Homo sapiens: one gene and its partner. The protein of the gene in region 1 interacts with the protein of each later gene in a pairwise test. Each region holds a gene or a part of one and is shown on either strand. Other genes may lie near its edges.

The links.
Region 2: the proteins of MAGI3 (region 1) and NRCAM interact in a two-hybrid assay, tested with the Homo sapiens proteins (one study listed by BioGRID and IntAct).

The regions. Positions count from the first base shown.
Region 1 is NC_000001.11:113,644,183-113,653,400, reverse strand, and holds part of MAGI3 (membrane-associated guanylate kinase, WW and PDZ domain-containing protein 3), read right to left. Parts: intron 6,916-9,218; coding exon 6,759-6,915; intron 4,165-6,758; coding exon 4,073-4,164; intron 2,388-4,072; coding exon 2,195-2,387; intron 1-2,194.
Region 2 is NC_000007.14:108,445,060-108,454,277, forward strand, and holds part of NRCAM (neuronal cell adhesion molecule isoform A precursor), read right to left. Parts: intron 1-9,218. UniProt on the Homo sapiens protein: Cell adhesion protein that is required for normal responses to cell-cell contacts in brain and in the peripheral nervous system. Plays a role in neurite outgrowth in response to contactin binding.

The sequences.
Region 1 (9,218 bases):
GGGGTTTCACCATATTGGCCAGGCTGGTCTCGAACTCCTGACCTCATGATCTCATTTTAAAGGAAGCTTTTCAAAGTTTCTGTGAGATTTGATAGTAAAAAAATTCTTCCTAAAACTGTTTTAGTTCCATCAAGTTTTATAACATGGACCAATAATTTTAATGAAACACATAATGAGGAATGACACATGAACTTCCTTTTAAAATCAATTATAAATATAATTTAGCTCAGTGACTGATATTCATTGATGTCTGTCTTAGAGGTTAAAGCATCAGGGCAGAAATGCTGCCCCATTATAACAGTTTGCTACCTGTACAGGATTTGTCTTATATGATGTGTTTTGCAACTGCAGTTTCCTGAGTGATGATATAAGATGAGTTCATCATTAGCAGTTCTCAGCCTTCAACCTCCCCAACCTCCACCCCTCAACTTGCTGGGACACATAACAAGCTGTCCACATGAATAGCAAACACTTCTGGGCATAGACAGGGTCATATGAAATTCCTGACAAATGGCCAATTAACCTACACCTTTTTCTGCTCTTCAAGGATGACATCAGAACTTGAGAATGACACAAAGTCCTAACTGATTTTTTAAAAAGGGCATATTTTTTGCCATAATTTGGTACAAACCATCGTTAATAATAACCACAACACACTGCAGTCATGTCCATATTTATAAGGTCTCTTTCTGGCTGAAAATTCACATGGTTTTAAGAATATGTTTTTTTCTTTTTTTTTTTCAAAATGCATAGTTAGAATGTATTAGCTAAAATGTCTCCAATAATACCAAACTACTATGAAACTTCTTCATGATTCTTTCCAGGGAAGAGCGTAGGTTGTATAACATCACAATTTTACTGTAAGTAGTTACATTTGGCCTCCAACACAACCAAATTGAGGCAGTACTGCATTACAATCTATATGCATTCTAAATGCCTGGTATTTACCAAAGGAGGCAGGCCTTTACTTTGAATGTTGCAATAAAAAATACAGTGCCTCATTTTTAAGAGTGATGTAAATATTCATCCAATTAACAACATTTATTAATGTCCACTTTGTACCAGACAGGCACTCTTTTAGGTGCCGAGCTTACAGCAGATAACTACACAAATAAAAATTCATACCTTCATGAGGCTTATATTCTTGTGCTACAGAGTTGTATTTTTTTAATTTTAAAGTGGAAAGAATTCACTTATAAGAATTTCTATTTAATTATTCATAAAGCTACTGGCGAGAAACTATAAGAGATATTCATATCCTAATGCTATGGTTTAAACCCTGATCTCTGAATTAAACTGCAACTTTTAATCCAGGCCCTACCTCTTACCAGTTATTTGTTTCTCAACCTTTCTCTGAGTAATCATAGAACTAGATAATGACCTCATAGTGTTGTGAAGATTAAATAAAATAATCCATGCATCTAGGACATAGTAAGCACTCAATAAATGTTAAATTATACTAAAACTTCTCAAGTAGAAACATCCTACTTTCCTTTAGTAGCTCAGATTTCACTGGGATCCAAAAATCTTTGTATATTCAGCTAGTGGGATATCTTGGTATGACTAAATAATTTTGTATTTGTTATTTAAAAAAAAACAAAACAAATTTAGGCTGGGCACAGTGGCTCACGCCTGTAATTCCAGCACTTTGGGAGTCTGAGACAGGTGGATCACTTGAGGTCAAGAGTTCGAGACCAGCCTGGCCAATGTGGTGAAACCCCGTCTCTACTAAAAATACAAAAATTAGCCGTGTGGTGGTGTGTGCCTGTAATCCCAGCTACTCAGGAGGCTGAGGCAGGAGAATCGCTTGAACCCAAGAGGTGGAGGTTGCAGTGAGCTGAGCTCATACCACTGCACTCTAGCCTGGGTGACAGAGTGAGACTCTACCTCAACTCAACAAAACAAAACAAAACCGGATTTAAATCAATACTCCCACCTATAATACATTTGCAAAATGCATCAATATATGAAAATAATCTTAATATAGAAGCCCAAAATTTATTTTTTTATAGTAGTATTATTTCTGAATCCTTTTGTGTTTGCATAGCCTTCCACAGTGAGGCCCTGGATCACACCAAATGGGTTATCTTAGATACTACTGAATGTAATAAAATAACCTGCAAAACTACACAGGAAGTAGACTAGTATCTTTGTTTCTTTTTTAACTTTTCAGAGCAGGAACAAGTTCACACACCTCCATAGAAGATCTTCCGTCTGACAGTTAGTAACACATGGCCATTTCGAGCAGCAGTTGTCATGAGGTCCAAGACTTGTTTGTGTGATTTCCCTTTAACAGGAATTCCATCAATGCACATTAGTTCATCAGCTGCGCGGAGCCGACCATCTTTCTCAGCTGCTCCCAGGGGAATAATAGCCCCAATATATATCTGATAAGATAACAAAGTACAGTTTGGTCCACAGTGTAAAGTTTAGCTGAAGAGTTAAGGAATTCCTAACTTAGCATTGTGCAAACCAACAGATTTTTGCAGTTCAACTATGAAAACAGTTATATTTTAGAAAGGTATTATCTGAGAAAGTGCCCATTCTCCAAAATGGCACTTCAAATAACCACATTGTATTATGTAATCCCTTATAGATCCTCAGGGCTGTGTACAAAGAAAATAGAAAATACAAAGTTGTTCGATAACTCAAAAAGCACAACCATTATCCCTATCATTACAATGAAACAAAACACTAAACTCAGAAAATATAAATCTGCAGAGTAGCTATTAAAAGTCTGTTCAATGTCATCAGGCAAGATTTTCTACATACTGTTCACAGCAACTGGGATCATTCTCAACAGTACTCCCATCACATATGACTAACGGTACAAGTTCAATATACACAGCACAGAGACATTTCTTGTTTCTAAATCTCAGCGGGAACAGAGTGGCCTGAAGCTTCACTTGCATCTAGGTGAACAAATCTGGTTCATTTTGCTCACCAGCATTAGAATCCTGTAATTAGGCAATCCTGAATGTTTAGGCTAGTTTCAGAGCTGCTAAAATCTGACATTTAAGAGAAAAGAAAGGTTTCTTCTAAGTTGTTTGAGACAAATTCTTAAAATGTCTAAGTGAACATTATGAGTATCAACAAAATAGGAAGCAATAAAACAAAAATACAAATACCAAGAACAATTAAAGTATCTAGTATTTGTTCTACATAGGGCAACCTGCCTTAAGCTTTATGTGTCTCCAATGACTGTTGTAACTGTAACCAATATGACCAATTAGAACAAATTTATACTACATAAATCAAATGTTCTATTCAGAAATAAGAAGCCTGTAATTTTTAAAGATTATTGTTCTTCACCTAACTTCCAACCATATTTTTTGATATATAATATATTGATATTATATAAAATAAAATGCAAATATGTTCTTAAAAATGCTACAGAACACATTACTTCTTTGTTATTCAAACCAAGAGCAAAACTTAGAAACAAAACCCACTACATTTGTTCTCTAAAACAAGTTTATGTGAGAATCATGTGTAAACAAAATCCTAGACTTCAAATGCTTTGCAAATATAACCCTTATGCCTCTGGACAAAAATATTAATTATTTTATATTCCTCTAGTTTCAAAGGTAACAGATGAAATGACATGCAAAGTACTGAGCATGAAAATGCCAACCTATTAATAAGACGAGGTGAAACAATATGCACAGGCTCATGCCAACCATTTATGGAGCATCCAGAAGATAGAGTAATAGTGGGAAAGAGGACATGGGATTATAGGCTTCTTAGAGAAGGAAAATGTCTTAGACTCTGTTTAATGAGGGCAAAGGAAAATATAAACTTAAAATAAGCTTTATGTAGTTATTCACACAGAGAAGTAAATAAATTAATCACTGTCTAATTTGCAGCTGACATATTCAGTTTTTACCCACAGTTTTTAGCCTCAGCTACACCACAATAACTGAGGGACTATGATAATAATGGAAATGCAGTTATTCTTCATATTAATGAAACTGTCAGAGAAAAAAAAACTTAAAACACACCATAATCCACCAAATCACCACTCAAAACGTTTGAACAGGAAACAGCCATGTTCCAAAGAAGTGACACTTACAGACTGGTCAGGTCCATCTCCTCCTAGCACCCTGAAGCCAAACCCTGACTCTTGTTTTCGAAGAAAAACATCCAAATCTTTGGTGTTTGGTGCTGAGGAAAATCAGAAAATATAAATACTATGATTTATTTTAAAAGGATTAAAACAAAACAAAGTTCAGTATTTAGTAGGATATTATAGAGTAACTCAATAAACTATAATCTCAGAACTTTTTAATATGGAAAATTTGCACAAGAGTGTAACACACACACACAATTCAACTATAAATCCTCGTTTTGAGCTCTAAACAAAACTGTATGAAGACTGTTTAGAAACATTTACTCTCACTTCCATATACTCAGTATTACACTGCCATTAACTTCTAATGCTGTCCAATCAATATAACAATGTTGAATTCAGAATGATCAAACTTGAGTTTGATATTTGACAGGTGCAAATGACCTAAGTTAACACTTGGGTAAGGTACATTAAATCTGTACAGGCACTGCTGTATAGAGTGCCTGTAAAATACCTTATTCCTGCTCTCAAGCTAATACCTTTCTCTCAGAAAAGTATTCCATATGAACTACTTACCTAGCCTAGTTTTGCAAAATGATAGCATTTTAAAGGAAAATAATTAAGAGCTAACATTTATTATTAGCCCCATTTTCTAGGTGGGAAAACTGAGGGTGTAAGTAAGTTGGCCATTGTCACATAGCAAGTGGTGAAGCTAAGATTTAAATCCAGGTTGATTTCCAGGGTCTAATCTCCTAACTCATACTGTCCTACCCTCAAAGGGTAGGTTGTATTCCTTAGAATATTAAGCAGGAGGATTGCTTGAACCTGGGAGGCAGAGGTTGCAGTGAACTGAGATCGTGCCACTGCATTCCAGCCTGGGCAACAGAGCAAGACTCCATCTCAAAAAAAAAAAAAAAGAATATTAAGTCACAAAAATCTATTTCATGACTAAAATTTTTCCTTTGGGAAAATATTAATGTTATTTATAGGTAAGAAGTATTTACTGTAAAGAGAGAAGAAATAAACATGTCAGGGAACTATGTAAAAAGTGAGATTAGTAAATTCCTGATAATATTCTATAGAAGCAGTATCTTTTGATATATACTTCCTATTAAAATTGTAGAACTTTAGAGATTAAAAGAGTCCACTTTGGGAGGCCGAGGTGGGCGGATCACGAGGTCAGGAGTTTGAGACCAGCTTGACTAACATGGTGAAACCCCGTCTCTACTAAAAATGCAAAACTTAGCCAGTCATGGTGGCATACGCCTGTAGTGCCAGCTACTCAGGAGGCTGAGGCAGGAGAATTGCTTGAACCTAGGAGGCAGAGGTTTCAGTGAGCTGAGATTGTGCCACTGCACTCCAGCTCCGGGTGACAGAGCAAGACTCTGTCTCAGGGGAAAAAAAAAAAAAGAGTCATCAGTTCAACTCACTTATTTTATGGGTGAAGCCTGATGGGACTGCAGAGTTTATACCAGTATTAATAATGTATCAGGCTATGAATGGAAAGTATGAAGAAAGGGATTCTACATTGTTATGCTAATTTAAATTATTGCTTTGCTGGGCGTACAACTGGTTTTCATCTTTCTGAATATGGCTTGGGATTATCAAGATGTACTTCTGCAACTAGTTAAATAAGCATTAAGTCAACTATACATATATTCCACTTGTACATATCTTTTCCAAGGTAGATTTACATCTCTTTCTAAGAACAAATAAATTTTAAAAAATTATACCTACTCAAATCTGCAATTTTACTTTGGAAAAGATTTATCATTAGTAAGTGAATTAGTAGGAACATGCATGAATTTCTGCCTTATGCAGTCTCTCTTTTTATCTCTCAGCTGGACTCCTGTAAGGAGTCAACTCTTTAGTTTCTTCTTCAAATTGCACACCCTCCCTCAAATTGCATACACCTCTGATTCATCCTTCATACTCCTGCCAGAAAAACCTTTCTAAAACACAAAACTATGCCTTCCTTATAGTTAAAGGCATTCTGTGGTTCTCTGTTATTTATATGACCAACTCCAGCTCCCTTGGAAGGGCATCATTGGCCTTCCTCAATCTGTTCCTGCTCTCCTCTGTGACTTTCCTTGCCAATTGCACCCAGCGAAAGTGAACTACTTGCAGAGCCCAAGTCATGCAAGGCCAGTGTGCATGTGCTATTCCTTCTATCTTTCCCTTTTATCTTCCTCAAAGACACTTTTTCATCCCTGATGACTTAGTTAAAGCTTTGCTTCCAGTATGAAGCTTTTCCTGACACTTCCTACTGCCCACACTGATAAAACTGAATATTCCTTCTTTGGATCCCAATTTATCCATTTCATCTTTCTATCACTGTACCTGTTAGGCTTATTATGTGTACTTATTTGTATACTATTTGATTACATATTTGTCTTTTTCCATTTAGTTCTAATAATATTTTTGGGTGCAGGTCCTATGTAACCTATTTATCTCTGTATTCTGGTTACCTAGTATGGCATCTGGTAGATAACTAGCACTTAAAGCATGATTTTGAAAAAAATGAATGTGTGAATGTCGAATATACATGGAAGAAGTCCAGAGTTCTATTAAAATGGTAATGAAGGAATAACTTTTCAATATGCTTCTGAAAGATGGGAAGGTCCTAGTCTAAAATAAATCCAAATTTATCTTGTTATATGCTCTCCTGAAATATTCCACAACTACTTACGTTTATCTTCATATAAAGTCTTAGATTTCAGGTAGACCTCAGAAGGATCCAATTTTGGGGATCCTGACCTGATAATGCTCGGTGGAAAAGGCATAGGCTGAGGAATAGGCTCATTTATGGCCTCCAAACTTCCTGCATTTTCCTTTTTATCTGTTTTCTGAAATGGAAAAGAGCCTTACTTAGTATTTTTTAAAAAGCAGATGGTTGATTAATTCATAAAACTGATATCTGAAATGGATATGTCAACTGATTATAGTTGTATAGGTGGCAGGATCAAAGACACAGCAGATTTACAGTTACAGGAATTCATTTTCATAGCAATGTGTATTTGGTTGAAACATATTTAACTTAAATTAGAAAAAAGTTTATAGTAATATCAACTGAAGAGCCTTAGTTAGTCCTATGTTTAAACAATTTTGCCCTTTTCTCCACCACCAAGACACAAATTGACTTTGAGATGAAGATAAATAGAAATACAATACAAGGCAGCACTTCTAAGTAAAGTAAGAGGGAGATTCAGAGAATATCTTCATAAAATTCTTAGCACGGCCCACCTCCCATTCACTGAGTTTAATTTCTAAGGAAGATGTTTAAGATAATACTCTTTCTAAGAAAACAGGAGAGGTTAACTCTAATTTAGGTTATAAAGATGGCACTGTGAAAACCCTGTCTGGCCAATTCACATATATTAAGAGAAAATGTACCATGCAAGACAATTAGATAAGGGAAAGCATAGTAGCATATTTTGATATTTTTCCTATTCAGCTAGAACTTTCCCAAGATAACAGCCAAGCAAAATGACTTATTTAATAAAATGTTAACAATGAAATCCAATAAATGGCCTAAGAAATATGGTTTTGAGACCAGCTCGTTTTCCTGGATTATTGTTAGGAGAGGGAGATTATGGATGTTTGTGATCATTAACAATGACTAGAATGCAGGGGCACCAGTCTGTCAGGGAGTAATCAGGGGTCAGCCACTACAAAGTGTCGTGCTAGAGGGGACCCTTCAATCACCCAGACCCAATGAGAAGGCAGAGAAGCTAACAGTAGTCTCCTACCCTTCCCCATACATCTTAGCATTCTGTCAGAGGCGGTTAAAGTTCATCAGACCCTTCCATCAATTATAAAGCATTAGGGCCACTGCGACTGCAGTGGCATCCATTATGAAATAAATATGGTGGCACAGGAGTTAAAAATGATTACTAGAGGAACCAGAGAAATGTAGAATACAGTGCAATTTGAACTGAATGGACAAAAACAATTTCTGTTCACACTGGACCCAAGTAGTATAAGCAGTCAATGAAAAGGGCAGAAGCTGGCCGGGCGCAGTGGCTCATGCCTGTAATCCCAGCACTTTGGGAGGCCGAGGTGGGCAGATCACCTGAGGTCAGGAATTTGAGACCAGCCTAGCCAATGTAGTGAAACTCCATCTCTACCAAAAATATAAAAATTAGCTGCGTGTGGTGGCGTGCACCTGTAATTCCAGCTACTGGGAGGCTAAGGCACAAGAATTGCTTGAACCTAGGCGGCAGAGGCTGCAGTGAGCCAAAATCACACCACTGCATTCCAGCCTGGGTGATGGAGTGAGACTCTGTCTCAAAAAAAAAAAAAAAAAAAAGGCCAGAAGCTGAGGGATTCTTTTTAATCTATAAAACAGCAAATTTGCAGAGGATTCCTACTTGGTGGGCTAGAAAGAACTAATTCATTTAATATAATTGTCTATAGTTTATGGTTATGGAAGGCCATCTTTTGATTTTGAGATAAAAGACTCCAAAGGAGCAAACTAGAACTAAATTAGAATTTTAAATAAAATTGTCTTTATATCCAAAACATTGTGGATATTTAAATAGCTACAAATGTGCACCTTGTAGAGTTTCTTCCACAACAGCAGCATTTGATGCACTCCTTTTTAAAGTTCTTATTCTCTGCACAGGTCCTTAAACAGGCTACGTGATTATTTAGAAGAATGCCAAAGAAGACACTGTTTCAGGTCTTTCACTTTGACAACAAGCAAATTTAGCATAGAAGGCCACAATTACTCTAGAAAGTCTTGTTTAGTCAGCCGGACGTGGTGTATCATGCCTGTAATCCCAGCACTTTGGGAGGCCGAGGCGGGCAGATCATGAGGTCAAGAGATTGAGACCATCCTAGCCAACATGGTGAAACCCTGTCTCTACTAAAAATACAAAAAAATTAGCTGGGTGTGGTGGCGTGCACCTGTAGTCCCAGCTACTTGGGAGGCTGAGGCAGGAGAATCGCTTGAACCCCGGAGGCGGAGGTTGCAGTGAGCCGAGATAGCGCCACTGCACTCCAGCCTGGGCGACAGAGCAAGACTCCGTCTCAAAAAATAAATAAATAAATAAAAAATAAATAATAAAAAAATAAGCCTAATTTAGTCTTAAAAGTAAGAAGATTATCTAAAGGTGCATGCATATTTATAGTCCCCACAAAATTATGT
Region 2 (9,218 bases), on another chromosome or scaffold:
TTTAATATATTAAAATGGTTTCATGCTTTATTGGTTTATGGGGTTGCTAGTTAGTCATGCCTGACACACAACAAAATTATTGACTGTCCTTTTCAAAAATATGAATGGATTATGGCTTGAAATAAAATACAATTAGATTTATGGACATTGACTGCAACTGAAAAATAAAAAGTTCCTTCTCAGAAGGACACACTGCCGACAGCTTTGCTGACTCTTATTTTATCATATTGACTCAACATGACTTTAACATATATATTATCATTTTTTGGAGAGTAAGGTTATAATTTGTGTTTTGAGAACAGTCCTATCCTGCAGCATCAACAAGGGTATCAATCTCCAGGCTGCAGTGCAAGACCACTTCATTTATTCAAAATCGAGTAGCCACATGTATTGTTAAGAATACATGATACATACGTATGCCTCAAGCATGTTTTTGGTGCAAAAAATGTCAAGTGCATTCTACCTAATAACACAGATTTACGTCATCTTTCTCTCTTAGCACTTTCATTTCATCATCATTTGTTACAGTCACATACCCCTGTGATGTAGGGTTGGGTGGTGACAAAGATTTTGTGTTTTATCTCTATTTTCTAAATAAAGAAAAGTTACTTAAGTAACTTTTCCAAAGCCATGCAGTGTATGAGCTTTCTTAATCTATGTGTAGTAGCCTAGTTCTTCTCAAATTTTAATTAATCAAAGATGTTACATAACTTTTTATTCTAGGTGTCTCTAATATGGCACCACTGCCCTGAATCCAACCCCTATAACCCACTAACTAGTTACGAAAGGCCATGCTGTAGTTCAACTCACATCTTAAGGGAGAAAGTTCCATTTTTAAAGCTACAGCATGAGAGCTTCTGATCTGTTTCACAAACCAGTCTCTTCATTTTTCATTTCAGTTCTGTGTGCCTCACTTCTGATTTCTTCAAATTCAGAGGGTAGAAAGCAATCTCAGAAAGTGCTTAACTCAGTCAGTGTGCAGCCACCCAGAGACCTCCGGAGGAAAATGACAAGCACCAGCTTCAGACAGTGAAGGGAAAGGAAAGCCACGTGCAAATCTGGAATCATCTGCCATTAGCAAAGGTAGAAAATTATAGAGGAACTCTTTGGGGTCACAAGGATGTCATTTAGACCTCCGCAGCAGAAATTTTTTAAATAGTACCCTTCTGGATTCAATGATTTCACCTGCTTGCTCAAGTGCCTAATTTAGAACCAGCAAGCAAATTACAATCTACAGAGTCCAGGCATGAAATTATAAATGTTTGGTTTCTCATGGTCTAGATCTATCTATGTCTTCAAACCAGGGCTGAGAACAAAACCCCCCAATTTTCCCCAACAAAGATCCACCTGACATTCTGACATTTTGCAATATTCATGTATTCAGTCATTCATTCTTGCACACACTCATTTATCAAATTTGGGGGCTCTCAGATACATACCACCATGCATAATGTGAAGAGCAGCTCAGGCTCCTCGCAGAACAGAGCAAGGATGGTTTCCGAAGTTAGGAGACATGGAGAAAGCTGACTAAGATAAGCAAGGGCCCCCAATGCCTGGATGACTAGTTATCTGCTTTTCTTTATCATGCAGACTCGGCCCCTCAATGTTATTTAGAGCAAATATCAAATATTTTTATACAATCGTATGTTCTCTCTGCATTTACAACCTATGTCTTTTTTTTTTTTTGAGATGGAGTCTCGCTGTGTTGCCCAGGCTGTAGTGCAAGTGCATGATCACAGCTCACTGCAACCTTCGCCTCCTGGGTTGAGGTGATTCTCCTGCCTCAGCCTCCTGAGTAGCTGGGATTACAGACGCCCACCACCACACCTGGCTCATTTTTGCATTTTTTTAGTAGAGATGGGGTTTCACCATGTTGGCCAGGCTGGTCTCAAATTCCCGACCTCAAGTGATCTGCCCGCCCAGGCCTCCCAAAGTGCTGGGATTAGCATGAGCCACCACACCCAGACCCACCTGTCTACCTCTTTACTAATTTTTATTCAGCCTTATTTGCTTAGGTTTCACTTGGTATCTATTTGCTCTTTCAACAGAGTCTCTACTTAGATATTTCTGAAAAATTTTTCATGAATTGAACTTTGATACATTACAGCAGCTCACTCATCATATAATCCTTATGCAAAGTGAAGAATCCTCTTTGATGTGAACAGTCACCCCATATGGGTTTGCCAAGTTCACTTCTTTCTTTTTTTTTTTTTTTTTTTTTTTTTAGACAGCGTCTCGCTCTATTGCCCAGGCTGGAGTGCAGTGGCACAATCTTGGCTCACTGAAACCTCTGCCTCCTGGGTTCCAGTGATTCTCCTGCCTCAGCCTCCCGAGTAGCTGGGATTACAGGCACGCACCACCATGCCTGGCTAATTTTTGTTTTTGTATTTTTAGTAGAGAGGGGGTTTTACCATGCTGGCCAGGGCGCTCTTGAACTCCTGATCTCATGATCCGCCTACTCTGTCCTCCCAAAGTGCTGGAACTACAGGTGTGAGCCACTGCGCCCGACCAAGTTCACATTTTCATATGCTAACTTTCTCAAGCTAGGGCCACCTGTACATAAAGGAACAAAACAGCTGGAAAATAGAGTGGATTTGGCTAGGAATTTAAGCATGTTACACTGAAATAACTTTAGCTTTCAATTCTTAGTAAATTCTTCTCAATACATTTCTTTTAAATGTAAATGTCTTATCATATTTCATTTTTGTAAGGTGACTTATGAGTTATTTCTATTTTATGATGTCAAGTTACTGCAATGACCCAAAGTACTACAGTAAAATATCCCTAGAATATTTCGTATTGAGTGCTATGAAGTGGAGACTATTCTCCATTAGCCAGGCAATAGCCATAAAAACTTTTATTCTTTTCCCTTTCTCTTTCTTTCAAATTTTAAGCTATTACCTTTAGAGGTAATGAGTCTGATCATGAACTCACTCCCTCTCTGCTGTTTAATGAACCCCCTCATGGTTTTAGGACAGCAGTGAACCCTTGACATCTATTTACCTTCCATTATAATTTCACATCACAGTAACTGTTACTAGAAACGTAAACATAACCATGGAGTTTTTTAAACCCCAGCACATCTATTAAAATGAAATTTACCTTAAAATTCATGAAACACACAAGGTATATATCATGATTCATGTAAAACACAACATGTCGTGTAAGTTAATATAATCATTCTGAAGTAAATTAGATGTTGTTCACATTAGAGTATTTATTATGTTGGAATTTCCATGTTACTAACTGTTCAAATATTGCCATGTCAATGTTATTTCCCTAAAAGTAGAAATATTCATTTGAATGTACTAAATATACATTTACAAAAATGGCTTTTAGCCATCATGCTACTAACATCAGAAGAAAAGACTATGTCGAGTCATTTAAGCAGTCAAAGATGCGAAAGCAAAATTTGGTGATGTTTCAACTTTCAATTTTTCAGTTTTCAAATACTACAATTTTTCCATTTCCAATCGCAGTTTTACAGAATACCAGGAAGAATTTCAAATTACCCAAAATTGCTTTTTATTTCACTTATTATAATACATTCTAGTACCCTCTACCTCCTAGTAGCTGCTTTTATTATTCTAGTGATGCACACACTAGAAAACGTTTCCTACTGAAATGTTTTCAATCAGATGCTGCCTACCAAAATGAATGGAAAACCATGTGCCATATGAAAAACTTCGAGAGTAAATATAAGAGTGATGGACTCCCACCGGGAGCAGAAAGCCAAAATCACACTTCATAAATATACTTATCTGGGAAGAAAAAACACTGGTTAGACAATATTTAGGACAGATGTATCTTGTTGCACATCAAAACAATCTGTGGACAACACCACAACACTGCGATGCAATTTTACAAGGGAAGCTGGTTGGGCATTTCTGTATTTATTCAACTAGATAATAGAGGGGAAAGCCGCAGAACAGTCAGAAGAATATTTGCAATGCAATTAGGGGGAACAAGTGCATCTGAGTGAGCGCCAGACACAGGGGCCTCCCCTTAATTCACACAGTCCAATGTTTTAATGCAGCGTACAGCAGCAAACTGAACTTCCTACAGTTTTAAAACTTTTGTCAGTTAACTAGATGTTTACCAAGTGCCTCGCTTGGGCACTCAACATTTCGGGTGTGCCATCCAGCTCTATGTAGGTTGTTCCAACACCATCTGTCACTTAAGCTTCCACAGATTCACAAATTTCAATTCGAACTAATCTACTCGGCACTCAAACTGAAGCTATAATTCAAATTTCAACATGAAGCTTGAATTCCTTTTCAGTGTTCTTCAACTTTGACCCAGCTCCCCCCTCCCTTCACTGAAAAGGGCCAAGACAACAGCCCAGCAAGTGGGGCAGGCAAAACAGGCCTCCTTTGTTCACTTTTGTCCTTTCAGCTCTCTATTGAGGTAAGGGACTGAAAAGGCACACCAGGTTTTGGAAGGCAGCAGCGGACTCGCTCGCAAGCCATCCTTCCTCAAAGAACCAAAAAACTCCAGGACAAAACTCTTTGGACAGGCCACTCTTACCTTAAGGCATAATTAATGGGAGATTAGTACTTCCCCTTTCCCTTGAGAGAGAATCTGTTAGTGGTGTTGAATATGAGTCTGTAAATGTTCATCAAAAATGCATGCCATAAATCATGCCATTCAAATGCCAAGGACATCAAAAAGTGGCATGAAATTAGCTTTAAAGTTGAAATTTGGAGAAAAGATCACTACATGCTGAATACTCATACTGAATTTTTTGAATGCTCTCAGCCCACTTGAGAAAGATAAATCAAATTCATTGCATATTACCCAGTGGAAGACCTCCTACAGGATTCCCTCAGATTGCCCTAGAAATAGATTTTTTTTTTTTCTGGTTACAGTGGGTTTTGAACCAACACACTATGCACATAATAAAATTTAAACATATATATATATTCAACATATATATATTCAAAATATAGTTTCCAGCCCTTCCTACCATTATTTAATGAGAAGAATTTCAAAAGGATCATTTTTGCCTGACAGTACCTGTCATTTTCATTCTCATGTGAATTAAACCATGTTTTAGTCCAGGGCAATATGGAAGAAATTCGGAGAGCACATAATACAAGTAAGATTCATCATTCCTGTGTTCGAACTGAATATGCCATTAGGACAGTATGTGAGTACAGGAGCATTAGTGGTTATAATTTGTTCCCTTTACCACTGGCTTTTTTTTTTTTTTATCTTCACTAGCTTCTTAGTCACTTGATGGAAACCCTCCATCAGACTGTTAAAAATTACCTTTTTCTAATTTGAAATTCCAATCTTGTAGGCCAGTAAAATAGGTCAATTAAGTTGACACCACATCTTTTTTATTAGCTCAGCTAAGCAATTATAATTGGGTGGTGAAGGTTTATGCTGTCATCTTGGAAGATTCAATGGTAGGGAGAAATGCCCAATGTGGAACTATAATTTACAATGCCAGTACATCCCTAAACATTCAGCATAAGAATATTTCTATTTTCAGATATGAGGCAAATTTGCTCTTGTTCTAGATTAAAATAATAATGCCATTTTTTGGCAGTAAAAAAAGCATATTTATTTAACTTATCCTCATAGCAAAATCATTTAGCACAAGTGTATTACAGACATAGGTACTTTAATTCAACATTTTAGAAAAATACCATGAATGTATGCCATCAATGCTGGCTTATCCTGGACTTGGACTACAACACATATGCTCCACAACATCAATTTCTTGCTTTGCACAAAGTATGTAATCAATTAATACTTGTTGAAAACCATATACCTCCATATTAATAAATGTTAAACCAATAAATTAGAAATGCTGTGAATGACTTGTTCAGAATATATAGATATTAATTTACAGCTTTAAAAGATAACAGTGGCTGGGCGTGGTGACTCACGCTTGTAATCTCAGCACTTTGGGAGGCCAAGGTGGATGTATCACCTGAGGTCAGGGGTTGAAGACCAGCTTGGCCAACCTGGTAAAACCCTGTCTCTACTAAAAATACAAAAATTAGCTGGGCATGGTGGCAGGTGCCTGTAATCCCAGGTAATCAGGTGGCTGAGGCAGGACAATCACTTGAACCAGGGAGGCAGAGGTTGCAGTGAGCCGAGACTGCAGCATTGCACTCCAGCCCAAGTGACAGGGCGAGACTCCGTCTCCAAAAAAAAAAAAACAAAGAAAGAAAAAAAAAGTAACAGTGATTGCACTTCAAACCTATTAGGATGGCTATTATCAAGAAAACAGAAAATAACAAGTGTTGGAGAAAATGTGGACAAACTGGAACCCCTGCGCATTGTTGGCAGAAATGTAAAATGGTACAGCTACTATGGAAAAGAGTATAACGATGTCTCAAAAAAAAATAGAACTACCATATGATCTAGCAGTCTCATTTCTGGGTATATACCCCAGAGAATTGAAAGCAGTGACTCAGATATTTGTACATCCATGTTCATGGCAGCATCATTTGCAATAGCCAAAAGATGAAAGTAACCCAAGTATATATGACATATGAATGGATAAACAAAATGTGGCATATACATACAATGAAATATTATTCAGCATTACAAAGGAAGGAAATTCTGACACATGGATCAACCTTGAAGGCACTATGGTAAGCAAAATAAACCAGTTACAGAAAGACAAATAAATACTGTATGATTCCACTCATATGAGGTACTTAGGGTCATCAGATTCATAGACTGGAAGTAGGATGTTTGTTGCCAGGGGCTGGGGGCTGAGGGGTTATGAACTATTGTTTAATGTGTACAGAGTTACAATTTGGGAAGGCAAAAAATGTTCTGGAGAGGTATAGTGGTGATGGCTGCACACAATGTGAATGTACTTAATGCCACTGAAGTATACACTTAGAAATAGTTTAATGGCATATCTTATGTCATATATATTTTACAATAAAAAACTTAGCAAAAACATTTTTTAAATAAACATATTGCATTTGCTGCCCCATTTAAAGACAACCTGATAATGAAGGATTTACAGTTGCTGACGCTGAAGGCTGAGCCATTCCCCTATTTCCTTCCTCAGGTAGCCTTCAATTTTAAGAGAAAAAATAAAAATTTGTCAATTCATTTTGGTACATCTTCCTATTCTTAGAAACTTCAGTCAAACTCATAGAAGCAGAGAGTAGAATGGTGATTGCTAGTGGGTAGGGGAATTGGGGAGATGAGATGTTCTCACCACACATACACAAATTAACTGTGTGAGGTGATAGATGTGTTTATTAGTTTGATTGTGGTAATCATTTCACAATGTATACATATATCAAAATATCATGTTGTACATATTAAATGTATACAACTTTTACTTGTCAATTATATCTCATTAATGCTGTGGGGGGGGGAAGAAACTTCAGCCTTTGATCCCAATAGAGGCTGTTTTAAACAGAAGGAGCTTTTCATTTGCCAAGGCAGTAAAATGTTTAAGTAAAATAAGTCACTGGATTTTTGCCCTTAGCATCCAGTTCTCTCCTCTGTCCTCACCTGCCAGGAAGGTTCCTGGAAGGGATGCTTCAGGTAGGGAAGCATAAAATTTTAAGGGAAAAGCATATCTAAATGTATTTAGTAATTTTCAAATCACTTCCTCTTCATCAATCATTGCAACAGCTGAAGACTGAAGTAAAGCAGTCTTTTGATTCAAATGCACAAAACTTCCTAAAGAATATGTTAGAAGCTCTACATTCCAGTTAAATTTGCTATGGGTTACCGAGCTTCTCAGATGGTAGGTACTCTTTGAAAATGAGGATGAGATTCCAATAGCTGCTGATCTATGGTGAGAATATAAGGAAAAAGCCTCAGTGCCTCAGTGGTTACCCTTTGGGGTGAGTAATGACTGGAAGGGACCACAAGAGGGCTTTCTCAGATGTGCATTACACTGTTCCTTGATCTGAGTGCTAGTTAAGTCAATGTGTTCAGTTTGTGCAAGTTCATCGGCTATGCATTTGTGATATGTGAAAAAAACTCTGTGTGATGAAGTATGTAGCTAGATGATAAAATTAGAATTAATCTTCCCAAGGACAGATATTCTGTTTGGTCACCACTGTATCCCCACTGCCTGGAACACAGTAAATATTTATTAAAGAATGAAGGAATGAATGAATGAAATCTTTTTAACGGAAAAGCTTCCTGTAGAGTTCCATTCAACAGCTCCTATGTACATACACAATATAATATCTGTAGAGTCTATTTATATTCAATCTGTTACACAGGGAAAATTACACCTGCATGAAAGCATTATTTGAAATGATTCTTGAAATTTTCTACAGCCCAGGTGTATACATTCTCAGGACCCCCTCACACTTCTGAAGCACTTACACCTAGCGATTATTGCCATCATTGTTGTATTGGCCTCACAGGAAGTACTATTTCCAAAGATGCTTTGCTTTCTATTCACTGTTACCGTAGCATTAACAAAAATGATGTGGTGTAAGGGCAATGGCCTTCAGTCCAAAGACCTCATCACTACCCTGCATTACGAGGCTGAGCCCTATTGCAGTTGTTTTGAAACTCGAAGGATTAGTTAGATACAATGTTGCCTGAGTCCTCTAACAGCTCTAAAATTCCTGGATTATGTAAAATGTTTAGCAACTTTCCTGTAATAAAGTAAAAAGAAGGTTGAAACAAGACTATGAGTCAGTAGGATTATGAATGCAAAATAAATCAATTTTTCCAATTGATCAGTTAATTATAATTCTAAAAGCTATTCCAGAAATAGCTGATTCCACTTTGGTTCAAATTTTCCTTTTTTACTAGTTAACATGGAGCATCTTCATAAATGCCCCCACATGTTTCTATATATTTAGGAAATAGAATGATTTCCTAAGATTGGATGCTAGGGTCCTATTCAAACTCAACATCCAATTTGAGGAGTAACTCATTTGCAGTCAAAACCGTGTACAAAGGACATTCAGGGCTGGGGACCTTTTCTTTAAAGAAAAAAAAGTTTTATGAAACTTTATGATGTGCCAGGAACATCTATGTAATCACAGAGGCCCTGGTTACTAAGAACATGTTGTTCAGTGACTGTAATGGGTTGGATTGTGGGTTAACAGCCACGTACTTAAAAGCTAACAGGAATAAAAGAATATGTAAAGGAGTTACATGGGAATAAAAGGCTATTCCACAATACAGTTCTCTGAATCACAATATTGCCTGCTACTGTGAGTTCTGCAGAGCTCCGAATTAAATGGGCTTGTAATGTATCT